Linked DNA regions of Homo sapiens. The protein of the gene in region 2 interacts with the protein of the main gene of each other region in a biochemical or structural test. Each region holds a gene or a part of one and is shown on either strand. Other genes may lie near its edges.

Region 1 (12,290 bases), on a different chromosome or scaffold from region 2:
GAGTGGCCCTCATTGTCATTGGCGGTATCCCTCCACCTGGAAGTACTGTGTGGCATATCGTCATCATCATCAGTATCAAAAAAAATTTTTGGTTTCACGCAGTTTGGACTTGCCAGGTTTCTGATTTTGGGCCTGACCACAGGTTCCTCTGCACTCTTTGAGGTGTTTTCCCCACCACCACAAATACTCACAGGAGCCCTGCTGGGACGTGCAGGTAAATTTTGCTCCCTTCTCTCCCTCTCCGAGCTGTCACCTTTTGTAGCCAGCTTGCCTTCAGAAGACGACTGTGAGGCCACACTACTTTGTGGCAGGAAGTCAGCTCTGCTAGCTGAGCATCTTGCTGCAGGGACTGGGTCTAACTTGTCTCGCTCCTCTCTCACATCACGGCTAAAACTAGAGAAATGTGGAGGTGGCCCAGCCAAAGACCTTGCCCCTTTCTCTGGGTCATACAGCTTATCATCTTTAAACTTGCCAGTTTTCCCTCTCACTGGCGGTCGCTCAACAGGCCCAGCCCCCTCCTCCTCACTATCATCTGCCCCATAAGAGTCAATATGTCCATAGGCCATTCCTCTTCTGCTACCCGAAGCTCTGTACTCTCTTGGCGGATACCTGGAATAGTCCTCATTATCAATATTCAGGTTGGTTCCCGAACTCTCGCTGTCGTCCCAACTACGACGAGTAGTGGAAAATGGCGATCGGCTCCTCTTGGTGGTTTGACTGGGGGCTGATCTGTGCATTGGGACTTCGGAGTTCGTCTTTCTCTGGCTGGCAATCCTTTCCCGCTGGCTCGTGGGTGGCCTGAAACTGACATAAGCATGCCTTCTTCCATACCTCCTACCTGTATTGGACTGATACCCTCCTGTTGGATTGGGCCATACAGGCTTGCTAGATTCCTGACCCATCACTCTGACTTAGGAGGGTTTCCAATACAGCTGGGGCTCGGGTAGGAGGGCTCCTGCTCCCTGCACACGTTTTTGAGATGGGAAAGTAAAATCAGTTTAGAATAAAGGAGCAGGGAGATTTATTTTCACTTCAGCAGGCAGGTAACAGAAAGAATAAGGGGCCTTTAAAATTAGTTTCACTTTCTTCTAAGGCCTGGAGTAGCATTCCAGTGACTGTCAGGTGTAGACCTGGAACACATTTTTAATGTTGGCAAAATGATTACAAGACTGGGTTTGCAGGAAAGCCAGACTTAGAGGAGAATCTGACGGAAGGTTGGGGGGTGACTGGACGCTTGGAAGGTGGGTGAAGTACTGTGGAATTGTGCAACGTGGGGAAAGGAAAGACTGCTATAGTTTTTTTTATGGGGTGTCTGCATTTTTCTGAGTGCTGCAGACATACAGGAGAAATGCAAATTGGAATAGAGTGGAAAATACAGATCGCCGTGTGTGCACGAGTGCCTATGTGTCTGTCTATCAAGAGGAGAGGGACAGGTGGAAGGGGACCAGTAATCCTGCAACAGAGGGATGTTTACGTTTGTAGGGGGAAAGGGTATGAGTGTTAGAATGAGACCCATTCTGGATGTGGGTATGAAAATGACAGGCATGGGTGGGGTGGCTTTGGAGGAGAGGGGTGCGTGTATGTATGAGGAAAGGGAAGGTGTTTGTGTGTGTAGCTGTATGTGAGGCAGCTGAAACTACAGAAGGATGCCCATGTTTATGCGTATGTCACAGGCAGAGGAGTGTATGGTTGGCAATGGAGAGGAGTGTCTGAGAGTTTGTGTGTGTGTATGTTAGTCAAAATGGGAGGCAACAATGGAGAAATGTCAGTGTGAGCAAATGCAGCAGGCACAAATGGAAGCGGGGGTGGGGGGTGCGCAGCACTGGAGAGGGATGTGCTTGAGGTGGATGGAACAGAGGCAGGCAATCAAAGAATGATGCCTGCCTGTGTGGATATGGCAAGCAGGGAGGCAGGTTGTGTCCCCGTAGAAGGATTTATGTGAGTGCGAGTGTGTGCACCTCAGGGACCAGCAAAAGAGAGCTGTGTCTGACACACGTGGCAGACAGAGCAATAGAGGAGAGCATTTGAGAAGGGGGTATGAATGAGCACATGTGGCTACATATGTATGTCACTGGCCAGCGATAGAAGGATGTCCTTATGTGTGTATATGACAGGAAGGAAGAAGGAGGGCAGCCGGAGGGGGTGTGTGAATAGGCATGTGTTCGCGAGAGCACGCAGAGGCCGAGCAGGGAGGGGGCCGGTGCTAGAGGTGTGTATGTGGTAGGCGGATAGAGGAGGGGGAAGGCATGGGAGGGTGTGAGGGTGTGAGGGTGTGTGAGAGGGTGTGTGCTGCGTGTGCCTGCGCATGCGCGGGGGAGGGGAAGCACTGGAACCTTGAGGATGGAGGGGCAAGGAGGGGGCTGCAATGGAAGGCTTCTGTGCGGGGGCGCGTGCTCGCGACACACGGGGGGTGGGGGGTAGGGGGGACGCAATGTCATAAAAAGAGGTGGGAAAAGGCCATCAGCTCAAACGGGAGACCCCAACCGATGTGGCAGGGGAGAGGGAAAATGAAAGAAAAGGGCGTGCGTGGGTCTAGTTTTCCCTGAGAATAATTATTTTTTCCTTCCAATTTTTTCCCTGGGAACAGTATTTTTACCTAAAAATCTTAACCATTTACCATTTGGCAAAACAACAGCAAAATATGGGAAGAAAGGCCACGGAGTGCTCCGCAAAGGGGCCGAGGAGGGAAGAAGGAAGGAGAGGGGAGGAGAGGCAGGGAGAAGTGGGAGAGGGCCGCGACCACCACTGCCCTCCCAATAGCGATGAAAGCCACTCGAGTGGGGACCGCGCCACACCAAAGGGGTTCCGGCAGCGGAAGATGTGGCCCCAGAACAGGCCGATGGAGGACATGGGCCTCACTCTGCAGTCAGGTCCCGCGTCCGCCCCACCCCTTCCCGAGGGGCGAACCTGAAAAGCAGTTCCCAGGAACCCCCCAAAATCCTCGCCCCCGTGCCCGGCCACTCGCCCCGCGCCCGGCCACTCGCGCCACCGCCAGCGCCCGGATGAATCGAGGAAACAATCAGCCTTTCACTCACCAAGTCCAGAAAGCCACACGCTTTTCAGAGAAGCAGAGCTCTCGGATCTCCGACCGCCACGACCGCCAGAGCCGCTGCTCCCGGTCCCGAGCTCCTCCCCCGCCAGACAGCAGCGGGGCGGGCGGCGACTGCGGCGGCGGAAGTGATTGTGAAGTCAGCTGGAGCCCGCCTCCTTGATGTGGCGGGGGCGGCAGCTGCTCTCCACAAATCAGGGTGGGCCCGAAAGCATTATTTCATCTTAAATGATGAAATCGTCAAGGATACAGAAAAGGACAGCGAAAAATGTCACAAACACCCAGCTTTAACTAATGTTAAACATTTAGCTATATTGCCTTCTGGTTTTTTAATAAATAAAATAAAATCTGCAAATTCTTTCTGATTAAGTCCAATGTGAGAGTAATTACGTTACTACATCACATCCTATGTTACGTGTTATGGTTGTACCGAAAGTATTAAAACTGTGAAACCATATTTAGGGTTGCAGTAAGCTTAAATTTTTTTTAACCTGATGGTTAAAGCAAATTGAAGCTGTTTATGTTGAATTTGTTGCTGCTAATCACAAAACCAAGCTTCTCTGTCCAAGAGATCATAGGACACAACACAGGTTCATATTCTGTTATTGCATTGCAGTTAAAAATATTGTAGTTACGCCTTTTGGATTTATACCATTTTACTGAATTCTGAAGTCTTTAAATTGCGCTTTATAATGGAACTCTAGTATTTACAGCCAATGTAAACATTTCCCATGTTCACAACAGTAGCAAAGTTTTGTTCTTACTGGAAACAAAATGCATAATAGAACAAAAATCTTAGGGGTAACAACATAATAGAAATAAAATGTATAACTTTCAAACCATTAAAGTAATAATATGTGGAACAAAGAGAAAAACTCATTCTTAACAAAGGTCAAGAAATGTTGCTGGGGGGGTACAAAAAAAAGGATGCAAAAAGAAAACAAAAATGCAGGAATCCAAATATATCAGCATGCATTATGGGTTAACATCTCCTAATAAAAACCAAACTCTTATTTTGAGCATTTTGTTTTTAAAAGCTAAGTTATATTCTATTTATGTGAGTTTCACCTAAAGCAGAAATAGGAATAAAAAATATATGAGAGTAAAATACTAGCAGAAAAAAGGGAGAGAGGGAATGAGGGAAGGAAAGAAGCAAAAAAAAAAAAAAGGAAGGAAAGGAAGGAGGAAACAAACTCGTAACAATATCAATATCCTAAACATCGAGAACTCAAAGTAAAAAGAACTAAAGAGAACAAAACAGGTTGCTTTATTCACTGAGAAAGATATGACAAGCTGGTGGTGTGTGCCTGTAGTCCCAACTACTTAGGAGGCTGAAGCAGGAGGATTGTGTGAGCCCAGGAGGTTGAGGCTGAAGTGAGTGAAGATCACGCCACTGCACTCCAGCCTGGACAACCAAGCAAGATGCCATCTCAAAATGATGATGATAATAATAACAATAATAGAACTTCATTGGTGAGAAATCTGAAACTATCAAATTTTTTAATGGAGATACATTTTCATCTAGCAATTCTACTTCTAGTCAATTGCTCTATTGTGTGTTCTATTGAGACACACAAATGGAGAAAGATATGTGAATAGGAGTGTAGCAAGATAATGCAAACAACTTTAATTCTCCTCAACAAATAAATTGTTTAAATTTATTTAAACATGTTGCATGGTGGCTCATGTACAGACATGGTGGTTGACACCTGTAATCGCAGCACTTTGGGAGACCAAGGCAGGAGGATTGCTTGAGCCCAGGAGTTGAGACCAGCCTGGACAATATGGTGAAACCCCATCTCTACAAAAAAAACGTAAAAATTTCCCTGGCGCAATGGTACGTGCCTGTAGTCCCAGCTACTTGGGAGGCTGAGGTGGGAGAATCACTTGAGCCCAGGAGGTTGAGGCTGCAGTGAGCCAAGATTGCGCCACTGTGATCCAGCCTGGGCAATAGTCAGACCCTGTCTCAAAAAAAAAAAAAAAAAAAAGAAAGAAAGAAAGAAGGCAAGTATATATGTATATATGTACTGGTCTAATATAAATATATTAAGTGAAAAAAGCATGTTGCAGAACAGTGCATTTTAAAAAAAAACATATGATAGTCACAAAAATTTATGTGCCAAACAATGTAGTTTCAAAATATATAAAGCAAATACTGTTAGAAATATAAAGAGAGATCAGGAAGTCTGCAATTATAGTGGGAAACTTCACCTCATTTCTTATGGTATAGATAAATCAAATAGACTGCAAAATAAATAACGATATGAGGAAATGGGACAGTACAATATACCGAATGTATATGTATTTTTGTTTTTTTGAGACAGAGTCTTGCTCTGTCATCCAGGCTGGAGTACAGTGGTAAAATCTTGGCTCACTGCAACCTCCACCTCCCGAGTTCAAGCAATCTCCTGCCTCAGCCTCCTGAGTTGCTGGGACTGCAGGTGTGCACCACCACACCCAGCTAGTTTTTGTATTTTTTAGTGGAAATGGGGTTTCACCATGTTGACCAGGCTGGTCTCGAATTCCTGATCTCAAGCAATCCACCTGCATCGGTATCCCAAAGTGCTGGAGTTACAAGCGTGAGCCACTGTGCCCAGCTTGTATATGTATTTTTGGACTCAAGAGAGGATACATTTTCTTTATAAAAATATTTTTAAATATGTCAACTATACAGAAAAGTAGAGTATAAAATACACATTTTAATGCACCTGTCACATGGATTGAGCAAATTTTATTTTCTCCAGATCCTCAGATCCTTCTGTTTTTGAAACAAAATAGTACAGATGAAGCCCTCACTTCATCCTATTCACTTGACCTCTCTCTTGAAAATAAGCCTTATTTGGAAGTTGATGTGCTGTCGTCTTGTTCATGTTTGTGTGTGTGTGTATGTGTATATATATATATATATATATATATATGTGTGTGTATATATATGTATGTATATATGTGTATATATGTATATGTGCATATAAGTGTATGTATACATATATATACAGATATATAATATATATTTACATATATATATCTGTGACCAATACACAATTTTGTTTCATGTATTTAAATTATACAGATGGTATCATTATAAATATATACTTTTGCAACTTAGATTTTCACTCTGTTGTTTTTTGAAACTCAGCAATTTTGATACCTGTAGATCTGAGTCATGCATTTTAACTGCTGAATATTACTGTATCAATTATCCAATACATTACTATAACATATTATTGTATGGACTTCTTTTGCATAAGTTATCCAATTTATCTCTTTTCCTACTGTTTCTGTTTTGTGCAATTATAAGTGAGGATTCAATGAACATCCTAGTGCATGGCTCCTTGTGCCTACATAGAAGAGTTTCTTCAGGGCAGAGCTTCCCAACTGAGTTATAAGTGTTCTGATATATTGATCCCCTTAGCTCTCCAGGAAGGTAGCTTTGGCTTCAGCAGCTGCCCCTAGAGACTGTTGCCTCTGGCCAAGAGCACACTGTCTGTTTATTCCAGTGAGCTGATAGCATTTTAAATATATGTTCTGATGTGAAAAGGATTGAAATAAATTGCTCTAGTATGGAAACATTGAAGTAGAATTTCTTGGTCAAAGAGTATGTAGTAGGTATCTATTGCTGTGTAACAAATTTCCCTAAAACATAGCAGCTAAAAACAACAAACATTTATCATATCAGTTTCTATGGGTCTGGAATCCAGGCATGGCTTAGTTAGGTGCCTCTGACTCAAACTTTCTTACGAGGTTGCACCCAAGCTCTCATCTAGGGTTGCAGTCTCATTTGAAGGCTCAAGTAGGGTAAGAGGTCCACTTCCAAGCTCTTTTACATGGTTGTTGACAGGCCAAAGAAGACCCATTTCTAAGCTAACTCATGTGGCTGTTGTCAGACTTTGATTCCTTGTCGTGTGGACCTATCCGTAGGCTTCCTAAGTCTCCTCACAGCATGGTAGCTGGAGAGAGAGAAAGAGAGAGAGAGAGAGAGAGAGAGATCCCAAGAGGAAAGATGCAGTCTTTTTATAACTTAATCTCAGAAGTGAGATCTCATCACTTTTGCCATATCCTATTCATTAAAAACAAGCCATGGAATTTGTTCATTTTATCTAAGTAATCAAATTTGTGGCCATAGAGTTGTTCATAATACTTTTTATTATCCTTTTAATGTCCATGAGGTCAGTAGCAATGGCTCCTCTCTAATTTCTGATATGAGTAATTTTGTTTACTCTCTTTTTTTCTGGGTCAGTCTGGCTACAAGCTTCTCAATCTTGTTGACCTTTTCAAAGAACCAGCTTTTGATTGTATTGCTTTTTCTCTACTATTGTTCTGTTTTCAATTTCATTGATTCCTGTTTTAATTTTTATTGCATTTTTTTCTGCTTACTTTGGGCTGAATTTGCTGTTTTATTTTCTAGTTTCCTAAGATGGAAGCTTAGATGATTTATTTAAGGTATTTCTTATTTTCTAATGTATGCATTCAATGCTACAAATTTCCCTCTAAGCACCACTTTTGCTGCATCCCACAAATTTTGGTAATTTATCTCAAAATATTTTAAAATTTATCTTGACACTTCTTCTCTAACCCATGTTTTCTTTAGAAGTATATTGTTTAATCCCCAAATATTATGTGATTTTCCAGCTACCATTCTTCTATTGATTCCTAATTCAATTTCATTGTGGTCTGAAAGCATACTTTGTATAATGTCTATTCTTTTAAATTTGTTGAGGCATGTTTCATGGCCCAGGATGTAGTCAATCTTGGTGAATGTTCAATGTGAGCTTGAAAAGAATGTGTATTCTGCTTTTGTTGGATGAAGTTGTCTATAAATGTCAATTAGATCCAGTTGATTGATGGTGCTATTCAGTTCAACTATATCTTTACTGATTTTCTGCCTGCTGGATCTGTCAATTACTGATTGAGTGGTGTTGAAGTCTCCAACTATAATTGTGGATTCATCTATTTTTTCTTGAAGTCCTATCAGTTTTTGACTCATGTATTTTGATGCTCTGTTGTTAGGCACACACACATTAAAGATTGTTGTGTCTTCTTGGAGAACTGACTCCTCTTTCATTACATAACACCCCTATTTATCCCTAATAATTTTCTTTGTTCTGAAATCTGCTGTGTCTGCAATTAACATAGCTACTCTGGCTTTCTTTTGATTACTGTTAGTATGGTATATATTTCTGAATCCCTTTACTTTTAGTTTGTCTTTAGAAAGTTGGTTTCATGTAGATAACATATAGTTAAATCTTGTTTTTAAAATCCATTCTGACAGTCTCTTTTAATTGGTGCATTTAGATCATTCACATTTAAAGTGATTATTGATATAGTTGGATTAATATTTACCATACTTGTAACTATTCCCTATTTGATGCCCTTGCTGTTTTTTTTTTTTTTTTTTTTTTGAGATGGAATCTTGCTCTGTCACCCAGGCTGGAGTGCAGTGGTGCGATCTCAGCTCACTGCAAACTCCACCTCCCAGGTTCAAGTGGTTCTCCAGCCTCCTGAGTAGCTGGGATTACAGGCGCCCACCACACCTGGGTAATTTTTGTATTTTTTTAGTAGAGACAGGGTTTCACCATGTTGCCCAGGCTGGTGTTGAACTCCTGACCTCAGGTGATCCACCCACCTTGGCCTCCCAAAGTGCTGGGATTACAGGTGTGAGCCACGATGTTCAGCCCTTTTTTTTTTTTTTTTTTGAGATAGGGTCTCACTCTGTCACTCAGACTGGATTGCAGTGGTGCGATGTCAGCTCACTGCAGCCTTGTCTCCCAGGCTCAAGTAATCCTCCCACCTCAGCCTCCTGAGTAGCTGGGACTACAGGCACACACCACCATGCTCAGCTAACTTTTTAACTTTTTTGTAGAGATGAGGCCTCCCTATATTTCCCAGGCTGGTCTGGAACTCCTGGGATCAAGCGATCCTCCCACCTCACCTCCCAAAGTGCTGGGATTACAGGCACGAACCACTGCACCCAGTTTCTCTGATTTTAATTAAGCATTTTATATGTTCAATTTTCTCTCCTCTCTTAGCATATTAATTTTACTTTTTATTTTTACTTTTTTAGTGATTACTCTAAAGCTTGCAATATACATTTACAACTAGTCCAAGTTCACTTTTAAATAACACTATAACTCCTCATGAATAGGGCAGGCACCTTATAACATAATATTTCCAATTCCTTCCTTCAATCTCTTATTACAGAAATGTAATAAGCATTTCTGTCATTCATTTCATTAGTATATATACTATAATCATCCAACATATTGTTACTATTATTTTTGAACAAGCTGTTATTAGATCAGTTAGTAACAAGAAAAACAAAATATTTTATTTTATTTATGCTGTCACTTATTTCTGTTTTAATGTTCTTCCTTTCTTTACGTAGATTCATATTTCTAACCAGTATTATTTTTCTTCTCTCTGAAGAACCTCTTTTAACATTTCTTGCAAGGCAGTTCCTAGAAGTGACATCATAACATGTTTGCCACATTCTATTTATTAAAGGTGAGTTACTAAGCCTAACCCACACTCAATGGGAGGAGATTACCCAAGAGCATGCATGGGGGCAGGAGGAGGACATCATGAGGCATCATGGGGGCAGGAGGAGGTTGGAGCATTTCAACCTGAATAAATATTCCCAATCTGTTTTCCAAAATGGTTGTAACAATTCACATTTTCACCTGAAGTTTATTCACATCTCTGCTTTTGGTGAGTATTTCACCAGATCCTCAGCACTCTTGATATAGGCTTTAAAATTGTTGCCAATTAAAATTGTTGCCAATCTGATGAGTATGGAACACTGGCTTTGCTTTTCCCTGAATTACTAGAGAAGTTAAGCATCCTTTTACAGTTTTTGACCATATAGATCTCTTCTCTGAAATGCTTGTTCATATCTTTTGTCCATGTTTCTACTGGGGTTGTTTTTATGGTTATTGATTTCTAGGAGTTCTTTGTATATTCTGAATACCAGATGTCAGCTGTATTTGTACCGTTGCAAATATCTTCTCATAGTCAGAATTTTCTTTAAATGTAAATATGAAATTTTAAAAGCACTTAAAATAAACCATGGGAGAATGTTTTTTCATAATCCTAGAATGGAGAAGACCTTTGTAAGTTCAATGAACTATAGAAGAGAAAAAAAAAGAGAAAGAGAAAAGTTTCAACTACATCAAAAAAAATATTCTGGCCAGCAAAAAATAAACAATTCTAAGTAAAGTAAAAGACAAATGCAGAGCCAGGCACAGTGGCTCGCCTTGACAACTTGAAGCCAGGAGTTCAAGACCAGCTTAGGCAACATAGCAAGACCCCATTTCAATTAAATATTTGCTGCTAATTGCATAAAGGACTAATTTCCCAAATACATGAAGAGCTCCTATAAATCAATAAAAGACCAACAAACCAATTTTAACATGAGCAAAGGATACCAATATACATTTTATTAGAAAGGAAATACAAATGGCATTTCAACATTTGAGAAGACGTTCAAGCTCAGTGATAAAAATAAAATGGGATGTGATTTCACCCATCAGACTGAGCAATGAGAGACAGTTTGATAAACACTGTTGTTGAAGGTGTGGAGCCACAGGCAGGCACCCTTCAACATTGCCGGTGGTAGGGTGAGGTTACTTGGTAGTTAGAGCCTCTGTAGTCAGCAAGTTGGCAATAGCTATCAAATTACTAATGCACATACTTTTTGGCCCAGAAATTCTACTTCTAGGAATTTGCTTACAGATATACTTGCACATGATTGAAGTGAAATATGTGCTGTTATATTCCTTACATCACAGTATTGTTTTTAATAGCAAAAAACTAGAACGAACCTAAACGTTTATCAAGAGGGAAATGAATAGTTGTGATGGTGGAAGACCTACTGTAACACAGCTAAGATGCAGAATCTAATGCTAGTTGTATCAGAAGGGATAAATCTAGAAATCAATATTGAATGCAAAAAGTGAGTTGTAAGAGGGTATGTATATTACCATAGTATTTATATATGTTTTAAAAGCACATAGAGGGCATTGTAGGTTCAAGATTGTTCTATCTTCTCAGAGAATTATTTGATCACTAATAAATGACGTAATGACGTATCTCTAATAAGACTTTTGGTATAAAGGTCAATCCTGTCAGCAATTCTACTTTCCAGTTTGTTTGTTTGTTTGTTTGTTTGTTTGTTTGTTTTGAGATGGAGTCTCGCTCTGTCGCCCAGGCAGGAGTGCAGCAGCATGATCTCGACTCACTGCAACCTCCGCCTCCTGGGTTCAGGCGATTCTCCTGCCTCAGCCTCTCAAGTAGCTGGGAATACAGGCTCATGCCACCATGCCAGGCTAATTTTTGTATTTTTAGTAGAGACACGGTTTTGCCATGTTGGCCAGGCTGGTCTTGAACTCCTGACCTCAAGTGATCTGCCTGCCTGGGCCTCCCAAAGTGCTGGAATTACAGGAGTGAGCAACCAGGCCGGCCTCCAGTTTTCTTTTGATAAGATTTTTTTCTGGTATATTTTTACTCATCTTTTAAAAATATTTTTAAGGTAATATCTTTATAATTACACACAAATATTTATGTAATTTTAGACACAGTCATAAAAGAAATCCTACGTGCATGCTTTACTAAAACTATAGTCTTTTCTGAGCTTGGGTGGCCGGAGGAGTGGTAGCAGCCAGCCAGCCTAGCTTCGCGAAGGCTCTCCGCGCGCCGCGGCCCACAGGCACCCGGCACGCGCCCTCCCCGCCGCCAGGATTCCCAAGAGGAAGGTCTGCTCCGCTGAAGGGGCCGCCAAGGAAGAGCCCAAGAGGAGATCTGCGCGATTGTCAGCTAAACCTCCTGCAAAAGTGGAAGCAAAGCCGAAAAAGGCTTTGCAAAGGACAAATCTTCAGACAAAAAAGTGCAAACAAAACGGAAAAGGGGAGCAAAGGGAAGACAGGCCAAAGTGGCTAACCAACAAACTAAAGAAGATTTACCTGCAGAAAACAGGGAAAGGAAAACTGAGGAGAGTCCAGCCTCTGATGAAGCAGGAGCCAAGACTGATTAGCACCATATACAATGTCTTATCAGTGGTCCCTGTCTCCCTTCTTGTACAATCCAGAGGAACATTTTTATCAACTATTTTGTAAATGCAAGTTTTTTAGTAGCTCTAGAAACATTTTTAAGAAGGAGGGAATCACACCTTATCCCATTTTTAAGTGTAAATGCTTTTTTTTTAAGAGTTGAAATCGTTTGTTGGTTGTTTATTTTTTGGTACAACCAG
Region 2 (11,865 bases):
CAGGAGGTGGAGGTTGCAGTGAGTTGAGATGGTGCCACTGCATTCCAGTCTGGGCGAAAGAGTGAGACTGTCTCCTAAAAAAAAAAAAAAAAAATAGGAACTTGGCCGGGCGCGGTGGCTCATGCCTGTAATCCCAGCACTTTGGGAGGCCGAGGTGGGTGGATCACAAGGTCAGGAGATCAAGACCATCCTGGCTAACACGGTGAAACCCAGGTTCTACTAAAAGTACAAAAGAATTAGCCAGGCGTGGTGGCGGGTGCCTGTAGTCCCAGCTACTTGGGAGGCTGAGGCAGGAGAATGGCGTGAACCCAGGAGGGAGAGGTTGCAGTGAGCCAAGATCGCGCCACTGCACTCCAGCCTGGGCGACAGAGCGAGACTCTGTCTCAAAAAAAAAAAAAAGGAACTTAATCATCCATTAATGGAGGATCTGTTAAATATATTTACAGTACAGCCATATAATGGGAATCAGTGAACAAAACAAGGGAGATCTATATGAAATGATGTGGAAGAATGTCCACATGGAAAAGTCACGTAGCAGAAGAATGTGCATATTATGATTAGCTTGGAAAAAAAGAAAAAAACAAACTTTTTTTTTTCAGATGTAGTTTCGCTCTTGTTGCCCAGGCTAGAGTGCAATGGCGTGATCTTGGCTCACCGCAACCTCTGTCTCCCGGGTTCAAGCGATTCTCCTGCCTCAGCCTCCCAAGTAGCTGGGATTACAGGAATGCACTACCACACCCGGTTAATTTTGTATTTTTAGTAGAGATGAGGTTTCTCCATGTTGGTCAGGCGGGTATCGAACTCCCAACCTCAGCCTCCCAAAGTGCTGGGATTACAGGTGTGAGCCACCACGCCCGGCCAAAACAAACTATTTAGGTAGGTGTGTATAAAACTGATAAAATAATCTGAAAATATACACATTACATTTTATAATGAGGGGAGGTGGAACAGCTACTTTTGACATTTCTCACTTGAATGGCATATTTCATTTTGTAACAAAAAAAATCCCCATCTTTTAAAGATAAAAATGAAAACGTTAACTTCAAAGTTTTCACATGAAATTTCTAAAGGGGAGAAGAATCCTCATAAAATGCATATGTATTTATTCAAATATTACATACAGCTGAAATTGCCTTTTAAATACAAGTAACCTCAGTGAACAGATAAATACAAATTGCTCCACTTTGAATGGTGTTACACTTACGATCTTCTCGAAAATATGTCTGCAACAATCCCAAGATTCTTTCTACTTCTTTCTCTGTTGCTTCTTGATGAGATTCTTCCATTCTTCTTAACTGAAAAAAGTCATTATCAAGCTGACAGACCTACTTACTGGCCTATTAACGTTTTCTTCTCTCTTGCACACCCAAACTCCTTTTCTTCTCTCTTGCACACCCGAACTCTTTTTTTTTTTTGAGACAGGGTCTTGCTTTGCCACCCAGGCTAGAGTGCAGTTGCATGATCTCGGCTCACTGTAACCTCAGACTCCTGTGCTCAAGGGATCCTACCACCTCAGCTTCTTGAGTAGCTGGCACTAGAAGCGTGCACCACTACACCTGGCTAATTTTTTTTTTTTTAATTCATTCTACCTTGTCTAAGACACCTGGCTAATTAAAAAAAATTTTTTTAGATATGGGGTCTTGCTGACCATCCTGGCTAACACGGTGAAACCCCATCTCTACTAAAAATACAAAAACTTAGCCAGGTGTGGTGACAGGCGCCTGTACTCCCAGCTACTCAGGAGGCTGAGGCAGGAGAATGGCATGAACCCGGGAGGCGGAGCTTGCAGTGAGCCGACATCGCGCCTGTAATCCCTGCGCTGTAGGAGGCTGAGGCAGGTGGATCACAAGGTCAGGAGTTCGAGACCAGCCTGGCCATTATGGTGAAACCGTCTCTATTAAAAAACACCAAAATTAGCCGGGCATGGTGGTGCCTGCCTGTAATCCCAGCTACTTGGGAGGCTGAGGCAGGAGAATGGCTTGAACCCAGCAGGCGGAGGTTGCAGTGAGCCGAGATCGCGCCACTGCACTCCAGCCCGGGTGATAGGGCAAGACTCTGTCTCAAAAAAAATTATGGTTTAAAAAAAAACAGATTTTCTGGTTTCAGTAACTTTTTTTTTTTTTTTTTGAGATGGAGTCTTGCTCTGTGGCCCAGGCTGGAGTGCAGTGGTGCCATCTCGGCTCACTGCAACCTCCGCTTCCCAGGTTCAAGCAATTCTCCTACCTCAGCCTCCAGAGTAGCTGGGATTAGAGGCACCCACCACCACATCTGGCTAATTTTTTGTACTTTTTAGTAGAGACAGGGTTTCACCATGTTGGCCAGGCTGGTTTCTAACTCCTGACCTCAGGTGGATCTGCCCGCCTTGGCCTCCCAAAGTGCTGGGATTACAGGCGTAAGCCACCACACTCGGGCAACCTTTGTTTTTTTTGAGACGGACTCTCGCTCTGTCGCCCAGGCTGGAGTACAGTGGCATGATCTCGGCTCAGTGCAACCTCTGCCTCCTAGATTCCTAATTCTCCTGCGTCAGCCTCCCGAATAGCCCGGACTACAGGCACCTGCCACCATACCTAGCTAATTTCTGTATTTTTAGTAGAGACGGGGTTTCCCCGTATTGGCCGGGCTGGTCTCGAACTCCTGACCTTGTGATCTGCCCGCCTCGGCCTCCCAAAGTGCTGGGATTACAGGCGTAAGCCACTGTGCCTGGCCTCAGTAACATTTTCATATCAATTTCTTAATAGAATAGTAACATTACCAGATTAACCATTTTCAGGTTGAACATAAAATAGCAAAATACAAAAGGGCGGTTTAGAAACAGTGGTTCTCGAGTGGGTGTGACTTTCCCCCCACCTCCCCAGGGAACATTTGTTGTCACATGTAGACATTTTTGGTTGTCACAACTCAGGGGTCGGGGGGGCTATTAGCATATAACAGGTAGAGGCTGGGGATGCCGCTAAGCATCCTACAATGCGCAGGACAGCTCCCCAAACCAACATTATCCAGCCGTAAATGTTGACAGTGCTGAGGTTGACCCTGGCTTCGGAGAACTGATCAAAACTAGAGAAATGAGTTAAAACAAAGACAAGCAGCCAATCCAATAAAATGCTTAAAGGCTTAAATAAAATGATTATTTAAGTGACAAAACCTGGCTCCAGACCCGCACACTTAGAAAAAATGGCCAAATTGCATGCACATTATTTTAACAGCTATTTTAACTTTAATGTGTTTTTTTAAAAGCAACATTTTAAAACAAACCTGGGCAGGCATTGCCCTCTCCTCTTGTATCACAGGAACTTTTCTTGGACGATCAACTCGTGGCTTTGGCACAGGGCACTCTCCGTATATTGAACCCAACCTAATGAAAAGTATGCTTTCATTTATTTTTTTTGCCTGTTGTTTGTTAAACAAACTAACTTTACTAACTAAAAGTAGTTTGCATGGTATAGTCAAATTCAGACCAGACATCAGTGATATACAAGCTGACATCAGAGTAAGACTCTTGATAAGGTTTGTGACAGCCTTTCTGCCTTCTTTGTATTTCTAAAAGAACTCCTAGGAGCTTTACTCAACCACAGATACCTCCTCAGACACCTACATACTGCCCTGTAAAGTAGGCCAGTGAATATGCCTGTGACATCTTCCCACCACCCAACCTATTGTTTTGCAAAGCCAACTTCTAAGAGCAGGGGAAGGATGAACATGTATGTGGGGAAGCTCCAGTGGGGTCAGAAGACTTTGATCTGGGGAGGCCAAGGCAGAGGCTCCCAGCCCAGGACTACAGAACACATCTGTCTTAGGATAACAGGGCAAGTCACAGCCATGGGATTCCTTTTCCTTCTGGATTCTGCCCTCATGCAGACTTGGGTTACAGTAATAGATGTAAGTCTGCATCATGTAGAGATCAAAGCCCCAAGAATAAGGCTCATGTGGTCCCTACCCTTGAGGAGACAAAAATATACGATGTAGATGGACAGCTGCATTATGCACACAGATCCATTTCAATATAACATGGTGGGCTACTCTGGGAACACTCCTGCTCCACAAGGAGCAGTATAAAAAAATAAATTAATCAAATTTTAAAAAAGCAACATGGTAGATCCTGGGCGCTTAGAGAGTACTGCTCAAGTGCTATGAGAACACTTGGGCAGAGATATCTACCCAGACATGGGAGTGACGTGGTTGAGAAATCTGATCCTACACTGCTAACACCTCTGTCTGGAGAAGTTGCTGGAGGCTTCCAAGATGGGGCCTGTGGGATAAACAAACTTTACCGAATGGAAAAGATGAAAAGGAATTGGAGGCCAAGAGAACAGCAAGTACAAAGACACAGAGTTTTAAGTACTTCATTGTGGCTGGAAATTGGGCTGGATGATGAGATAAAGTTTAAGGCTTTATCTTTATAACCTAGGATTTATGAGTTTAGTACAATAGCAAAAAACAAAGATTTAGACTTTATCCTAAGATGAAGAAGTTTGGACTACATCCTATTAAATAGAACATACACAAATGGCTCTGGGCACCTGAGTTACCTGAAGTCTTATTAAAAATAGATGCCAGACCCCACACCACACTACTACATTGGCATCTCCAAGGCCTTCTACCCGAGCTACTATCAATCTCAATGGTTTTTAGAAAGACAAATTAGAAAAGACAAAAGCCCAGGAGCTATACCACTTAAAGAAGGACTGAACAACTCAGATGGCTACCCTAAAGTATTTACTGGGCAACAAAACCAGTATACTTGAAGGTCCTCTTAGAGAAGAGCCAGTAAGAGCTGTTCTTAATTTCTCCATAGGACCATGCCAGGAAGTTAAGACAGAAGCCAACTTCATTCAAATATAAAGAAATCTTTTTTTTAAATCAGAGTTCTATCTAAAAAATGAACTGGACAGTTTATGTGGCAGTGACAAGTAATCTTCAAATACAAGTCAGTGGTCATCTAACAGGGTATTATAATAAATGTCACTTTAGACGTTGGGAGACTCATAAGATACCCTCAGTAGGAGGTATCATCCTCCTATATGATAAGGATTTTAAAGATGATAAACCCAGAGTCTCATGAGCTAGAAGCAAAGGAGCCAGGAGAGCACTGGTAAAGAGGTTCTGGCCTTTTCTGCTAAAGCAGAATGAGAGATCCTTTAAGGTTCCATCCACATCTAGAGTTTATGGACTTTTTTTTCTTTTTTGAGACAGGGTCTCACTGTCAGCCAGGCCGGAGTGCAATGGCGCAATCTCAGCTCACTGCAATCTCTGCCTCCCAGGCTCAAGTGATCCTCCCACCTCAGCCTCCCAAGTAGCCAGGACCACAGGCATGGGCCACTACAGCGGGCTAATTTTTTGTATTTTTGGTAGAGATGGGTTCTCGCCATGTTGCCCAGGCTGATCTTGAATTCCTGAGCTCAGATGATCTACCTGCATCCACCTGCCAAAGTGCCGGGATTACAGGCATGAGCCACCACACCCGGCCTAGTGTTTATGAACTTTCATATCAAAGTTTCAAAAGTCTCCAAACAACGGCATCATGACTGTCACCTCTACAATACCAAATAATCTTTGTCCCTACAAGAAAAAGCAATTTAAGGTTCACAAATAACTGGTCTGTTGGATTTTTAAAATAATCTTACAGAAAGTGGAATGTATGGGTTTTATTAAAGGTGTTTTCTGCTGTTCTGCCTGTTATCTTCCAGGAGTCATAGACTATGAATTCAAAATCAGGACTATCTTCATCACGGATGAGTTCTTCAGCTTCTAGCGGATTTACACCCATATGTGTGAGCTACAAAAATGAAGGAAAACAAAAAACCCAGTTAAGCCACATGCAATCATTTTCCACATCCAATAATCCGCATCACTCAACCTTTAAGAGGCCAGACGCAAAGCCAGCTTTCAGTGTCTTAACATGCTGGCTAAATTTCTTACTGTGAAGATAACTTTACAGTTAAAGTCCTGCTTCCAAAGCTACCTTCTTTTTGGCAGAAAACATTCCTCAATGTACTTAAAACCTTTGGGTGAGAAAGTGAAATGATTTAGACCAGTGGTTCTCAACCTGGGTATACGTGCCCACAGGGGTCTTCTGGCAATACCTGGAGACATTTGTGGGTGTCACAACTGATATGCTGCTGGCATATACTGGGTAGAGGCCATGGAGGCTGTTGAATATCATATAATGCACAGTAACAGCCCCCAAAACAAAGACATGCCCAGCTCAAAATGCCAATCCATAGTGCCAGTGCTGAGAAACCCTGCTGTAGCCCACTGGCAGCCAGAAGTATTTAGGTATGCCAGAACTCAGCCCCCTGGGATTTTTTGTATCACCAATAGTTCGTGTATTAGTAAAGCTGCACTAACATATAAATATAAAATTAAATCCCAAATCAAAAGCTTCAAGACAGCACAAGGAAGTTCAGCTGGTTTTCAGATTTTAATTTTTTGCCAACCTCCTACAAATCTCTATTCAGCTTGTATCTCAGTATATCCAGAGAGCAGTGGCCCGGCATCACTGAGAGAATGGCTCATCTTAAAATTGCCTTCCTGGGAAGAGTTGGCGGAAGTCAAATAATTCTCTCATCTCAAACTGTCTTACAGAAAATGTGTTATATTGAATTTACTTTTATGAAAGTACATTTTTATTACATTATACTGTAAAATGCCTAGAAGTTATCCAATTACGATGGCAATATCATATATAAACAATAATCACAAAACCCTCAGGGAGCTTAACCCTATTAAAGGCAATCAGACTTTAAAGAAAAGAAAGGCTACAAGAGCCTGGTCAGAGCGCTATGGCCAGCTCTTCTCCATTCCCTTGCCGCCCGAACTACCACTGCACCCTTGTAGGCAGACGTGGCAGTTTTGGTCTGTTTAACTGACAGAGAAATCCACCAATCTTTCCTTATAGTGTCTATATTTGATGCTATACATACGAAAGTCTTCTCCACCCAGAGACTGGACAACTATTAATTTAAGGTTTTATATTTAATGCTTTAAGACTTCCAGAATTTATTTTGATATGTTATTTAAAGTACAGAGCTTGGCCGGGCACGGTGGCTCATGCCTGTAATCCCAGCACTTTGGGAAGTCCAGGCGGGTGGATCACGAAGTCAGGAGTTCGAGGCCAGCCTGGCCAACATGGCGAAACCCCACCTCTACTAAAAATTAGCCAGGCGTGGGGACAGGCACCTGTAATGCCAGCTTCTTGGGAGGCTGAGGCAGGAGAATCGCTTGAACCCAGGAGGTGGAGGTTGCGGTGAGCTGAGATCGTGCCACTGCACTCCAGCCTGGGCAACACTCCAGCATGGGCAACACTCCAGCCTGGGCAACAAGAGCAAGACTCTGTCTCAAAAAATAAAAAAATAGAGCTTAACCTGATAAAGTAATTTTTAAAGAAATACCCAATACATGGTTACTTTATTGACCTCTATATTACAGTGCACTTTCCTAAGTGCATTATGTTTCACAATAAAAAAAAGTTAAAAAAAAAAAAAAAAAAGGAAAAGGTTTGAAAAACAAACTGGAAATAATCTGGTGCCTCATGCCTTTACAAAAAAATTATCTGATCAGATCTCATAGTACTAAATTATTTTAATAACCATTTAACATAAACATCCAGTTAGAAATGCAATATTCATACTGAGGTGCAGCTATCTGTGCTAGGACAGAGGTTGGCTCAGATTGACAGATTGACTGATTGATTGATTGATTTTGAGGTGCAGTCTCACTCTGTAGCCCAGGCTGGAGTGCAGTGGCGCGATCTCGGCTCACTGCAACTTCTGCCTCCTGGGTTCAAGGGATTATCCTGCCTTAGCCTCCCGAGTAGCTGGGATTACAGGCGCCTGCCACCACACCCAGCTAATTTTTCTATTTTTAGTAGAGACGGGCTTTCACCATGGTGGCCAGGCTGGTCTGAAACTTCTGACCTCAGGTGATCCACCCGCCTCAGCCTCCCAAAGTGCTGGGATTACAGGCGTGAGCCACTGCCCCCAGCCAGAATAGAATTTTTTAAAAAGACAACAAAGTGAGATACAAGGTCAGTCTCTGTGTGCTTTTTCTTTTTTGGTAAATTCATCAAGGAACAGTTTTAGAATTGCAGGTAACCACTATTCAAACTTGTCAAGAGACAAAGAAAGGTGAATAAAACATAAAACCAAAAAAGCAAAACCTGGCTGGGCTAGGTGGCTCACGGCTGTAATCCCAGCACTTTGGGAAGCCAAGGCGGGCAGATCACGAGATCAGGAGATCCAGACCATCCTGGCTAACATGATGAAACCCCGTCTCTACTAAAAATACAAAAAATTAGCCGGGCGTGGTGGCAGGCGCCTGTAGTCCCAGCTACTTGGGAGGCTGAGACAGGAGAATGGCGTGAACCCAGGAGGCAGAGCTTGCAGTGAGCCGAGATCACGCCACTGCACTCCAGCCTGGGCGACAGAGCGAGACTCTGTCTCAAAGGAAAAAAAAAAAAAAAAAAAAAAGCAAAACCCAATCATATTCACATGGTTTTGAAATATTCTCAAAGACAGACCAAAACATGCCCTCTCGCCAGGCCTAACTCAATTCCAGCTGAGCTCTGCCATCGCAGAGTGGGCTTTTGTCCAGCCCAGGACAAAGGTCTGAGGTCACTGAGAATGATCTAGAACACCAGTGAACAGAGGAAAAATGGCCATTGGCAAATGACCATAGCACCCAGCATCTTAAGACAGAATGCTACGAGATTTTTACTCCAAGCCCCCACCCAAGATTCCACCACATGGTTCTACTTTCGTCTGTTTAAATTGGTAAGATCTCTACAGAGGAATCTGAGACCAAAAAAGAAGAATGAAGTGAAATCATCTGCATATGGATATGAGCACAGTAAATAATTATAATATATAACAGAACATTTTTTATTCAGAGTCTGTAGCTTTGAACTTACTAGAGTTTCAACATATCTTAACATGTCAAAGGAGCTCAGGTCTGAGCGCAGCTGCTTTGCTTTCTCTTTGCCCAAATCTGAAGCCAAAACAAGAAAGTGGGCATCCAGGACTGCTTCTCTTGCTCGGGACACTATTCAAAAAAGAAAGAAAATATTCACATTACAAAATACACATTATCCATAGACTTTTTCCCTACATTTCCAACTACTTACCAGGATTTCCCACTGGACTAAAAAAAAAAAAAAATCTCAATAGGCAACTGACACATCTCCTTCTAAAACGTGCTCCTGGCCAGGTGCGGTGGCTCAAGCCTGTAATCCCAGCACTTTGGGAGGCCAAGGCGGGCGGATCACGAGGTCAGGAGATCGAGACCATCCTGGCTAACACGGTGAAACCCCAGCTCTACTAAAAATACAAAAAATTAGCAGGGCGTGGTGGCGGGCGCCTGTAGTCCCAGCTACTTGGGAGGCTGAGGCAGAATGGCGTGAACCCGGGAGGCAGAGCTTGCAGTAAGCCAAGATCGCGCCACTGCACTCCAGCCTGGGTGTCAGAGCAAGAGGCTGTCTCAAAACAAAAACAAAAACAAAAAAAAACTTTCTCCTGTGCCCAACTCACCAAAATCTCTAATGAAAGCTGACCAGTCTTCCTAAAAGCCAGCTTTCTGTCTAGTTCTCCTACTGTTAGCTGAATCACAATCTCTTAAATAACTCCAGTTGAGCAAAACCCGTCATGTCTAATACTCACTTTTCCCTCCATCCTAATCACGATGATCATGTGTGCTGACGTAAGGAAAATCAAATTCCCACTACATGTAGGGCCCTGTGCTTGGCATGGTGGTTTGTGAACAGCAATAGGTAAGCTGCTAAGCAATAGGTAAGTTGCTAAAGTTGCTAACCAAAATCATGGCATGTGCTAGGCTGGCACTAGGAGGCTCATGCCTCTGTATGGCTTCACAGGCAACCCCAGCAAAGCCACCCAAATGAACAGTCTACAGGTAGCAGGTAGTGACCCGAGGACGGATACTCAAAAAAGGCTTGACAGAGGACATGGGATTTAAGAAAAGCTATGGAAAAAAAAGATTTAAATTAATGCAGAAACAGGCTGGGCACAGCAGCTCATGCCTGTAATCCCTACACTTTGGGAAGCCGAGGCAGGCGGATCACTTTGAGCTCCAAAGTTTGAGACCAGCCTGGGCAACGTGGTGAAACCCCATCTCTACTAAAGAATCAAAAATTAGCTGGGCATGGTGGTGCACACCTGTAATCCCAGCTACTCGGGTGGCTGAAGCTGGAGAATAGCTTTAACCTGGGGGGGGCAGAGGTTGCAGTGAGCCAAGATCATGCCACTGCACTCCAGCCTGGGCGACAGGTGTAGGTGTTCCCAGACTATTTTTCATACTCTCTGTTGCCTGCAGGGTCTGATTAAGCAACCCCCTCAGCCCCGCTGTTTCCTTTTGTTGATCCCTTCTTTATCTCCCATGAGTATCCTGTGCCTGCCTGCCCCACTCCCTTCCCCTTTCATTTATTTATTTATTTTACAAACTGAGACCATCAAATCCATGAATGCCAGCATCTGTTGTTTGCTGAGCAACTCCTAGGGCTCCAATGAGTGAATAATTTTGCTCTAAAATATTGCTTTAAATACTGGAAATAGCTGAGGGGGGAATGATGTGGGGATAAAGAACTGACTAGATGCACAGTAAATATCAAGGGAGTAATTGAGTCAAGTCAAGCAAGACTAACAGTAAGGAGACTGGGAGTCCAGGCTGCGAAGGGAAGACAAAACTTAAGAGGGTAGTAGAGGGATTTAACCAGGTGAAGGAGAAACACCCGGTTCCTGAAGGTTTTGATGAGAGTTAGCAAATGCGGTAGACTAAGATGGGGAATGGTAAGGAGGCTGTGGTCAAAGAAATTGGAGAGCATATATAAAGTGATAAAAGGAGACATTTAAAGAACTAGTCATCCTCAGCAATGACTAAAAATATACGTTCTAGTCCTTTAAGAATATGAGGAACCAGCCGGGGGCGGTGGCTCATGCCTGTAATCCCAGCACTGTGGGAGGCGGAGGCAGGTGGATTACCTGAGGTCAGGAGTTCGAGACCAGCCTGGCCAACATGGCGAAACCCGTCTCTACTAAAAATACAAAAATTAGCTGGGTGTGATGGAGCACACCTGTAATCCCAGCTACTCGGGACGCTGAGGTAGGAGAATTGCTTGAACCTGGGAGGTGGAGGTTGCAGTGAGCCGAGATTGTGCTACTGCACTCCAGCCTGGGCAACAGAGACTCCATCTCAAACCTCAAAAAAAAAAAAAAAAAGGATATATTTGGCTGCATTCTCCCCTATGTTCCCACAGACCCGTCAGAGAGGGCTGGAGGGGACAGTGGTCTGGGTAGTAGTCCTGTGGCTCTATGACCAAGTACCCACATCAGGGAGTACCCCTCTGTCACCAAGCAGACAGACAGCTGCTACCAATACCACTGCCTCTGCTTTCAATTCAAACTAAGGTTATTTTTTAAAGCACCCATGGCCTAGAGTTCAGTGCTCTGGGATCTCTCTCACTCACTCACTCACACACAACACACCCCAGACTGGAGACCAGCAGGTACACTTGCAGGCTTTGCCACCTCCATTGTGTTACACGTGGACCAATAGCAGGGAGCTGAGGAAGGCAAAACAGAATGGGACAGGAAAAGAAACAGGATTTCAGAGGCTAGCTCAGTTCTGTAATTCATCCACTCAACCAATGTATACTAGGGATACGGCAGTAAACACAAGAAAAAGAAACAAGATAACACATGTAACGTTCTCAAACTTGAAGAGGCAACAGAATCAACTGGGGGCTTAACACAGACTGCGGAACCTACCCCCAAATTTTCATGTAAAGCCCTTATTATATGGTAAGTGCATAATAAAAATGGCATTATTGCTATAATGAAACGGTTCCCGAACTGGGAAAGC

Evidence for each region.
Region 1: the proteins of NSMCE4A (region 2) and PJA1 form a complex in vitro, tested with the Homo sapiens proteins (one study listed by BioGRID).

The regions. Positions count from the first base shown.
Region 1 is NC_000023.11:69,162,337-69,174,626, forward strand, and holds the start of PJA1 (E3 ubiquitin-protein ligase Praja-1), read right to left. Parts: upstream 3,118-12,290; 5' UTR 3,036-3,117; intron 1,131-3,035; exon of another isoform or gene 903-1,130; coding exon of another isoform or gene 738-902; coding exon 1-737. UniProt on the Homo sapiens protein: Has E2-dependent E3 ubiquitin-protein ligase activity. Ubiquitinates MAGED1 antigen leading to its subsequent degradation by proteasome. May be involved in protein sorting.
Region 2 is NC_000010.11:121,962,034-121,973,898, forward strand, and holds part of NSMCE4A (non-structural maintenance of chromosomes element 4 homolog A), read right to left. Parts: intron 11,797-11,865; exon of another isoform or gene 11,490-11,796; intron 9,037-11,489; coding exon 8,906-9,036; intron 5,774-8,905; coding exon 5,622-5,773; intron 3,353-5,621; coding exon 3,253-3,352; intron 1,296-3,252; coding exon 1,205-1,295; intron 75-1,204; coding exon of another isoform or gene 1-74. UniProt on the Homo sapiens protein: Component of the SMC5-SMC6 complex, a complex involved in DNA double-strand breaks by homologous recombination. The complex may promote sister chromatid homologous recombination by recruiting the SMC1-SMC3 cohesin complex to double-strand breaks.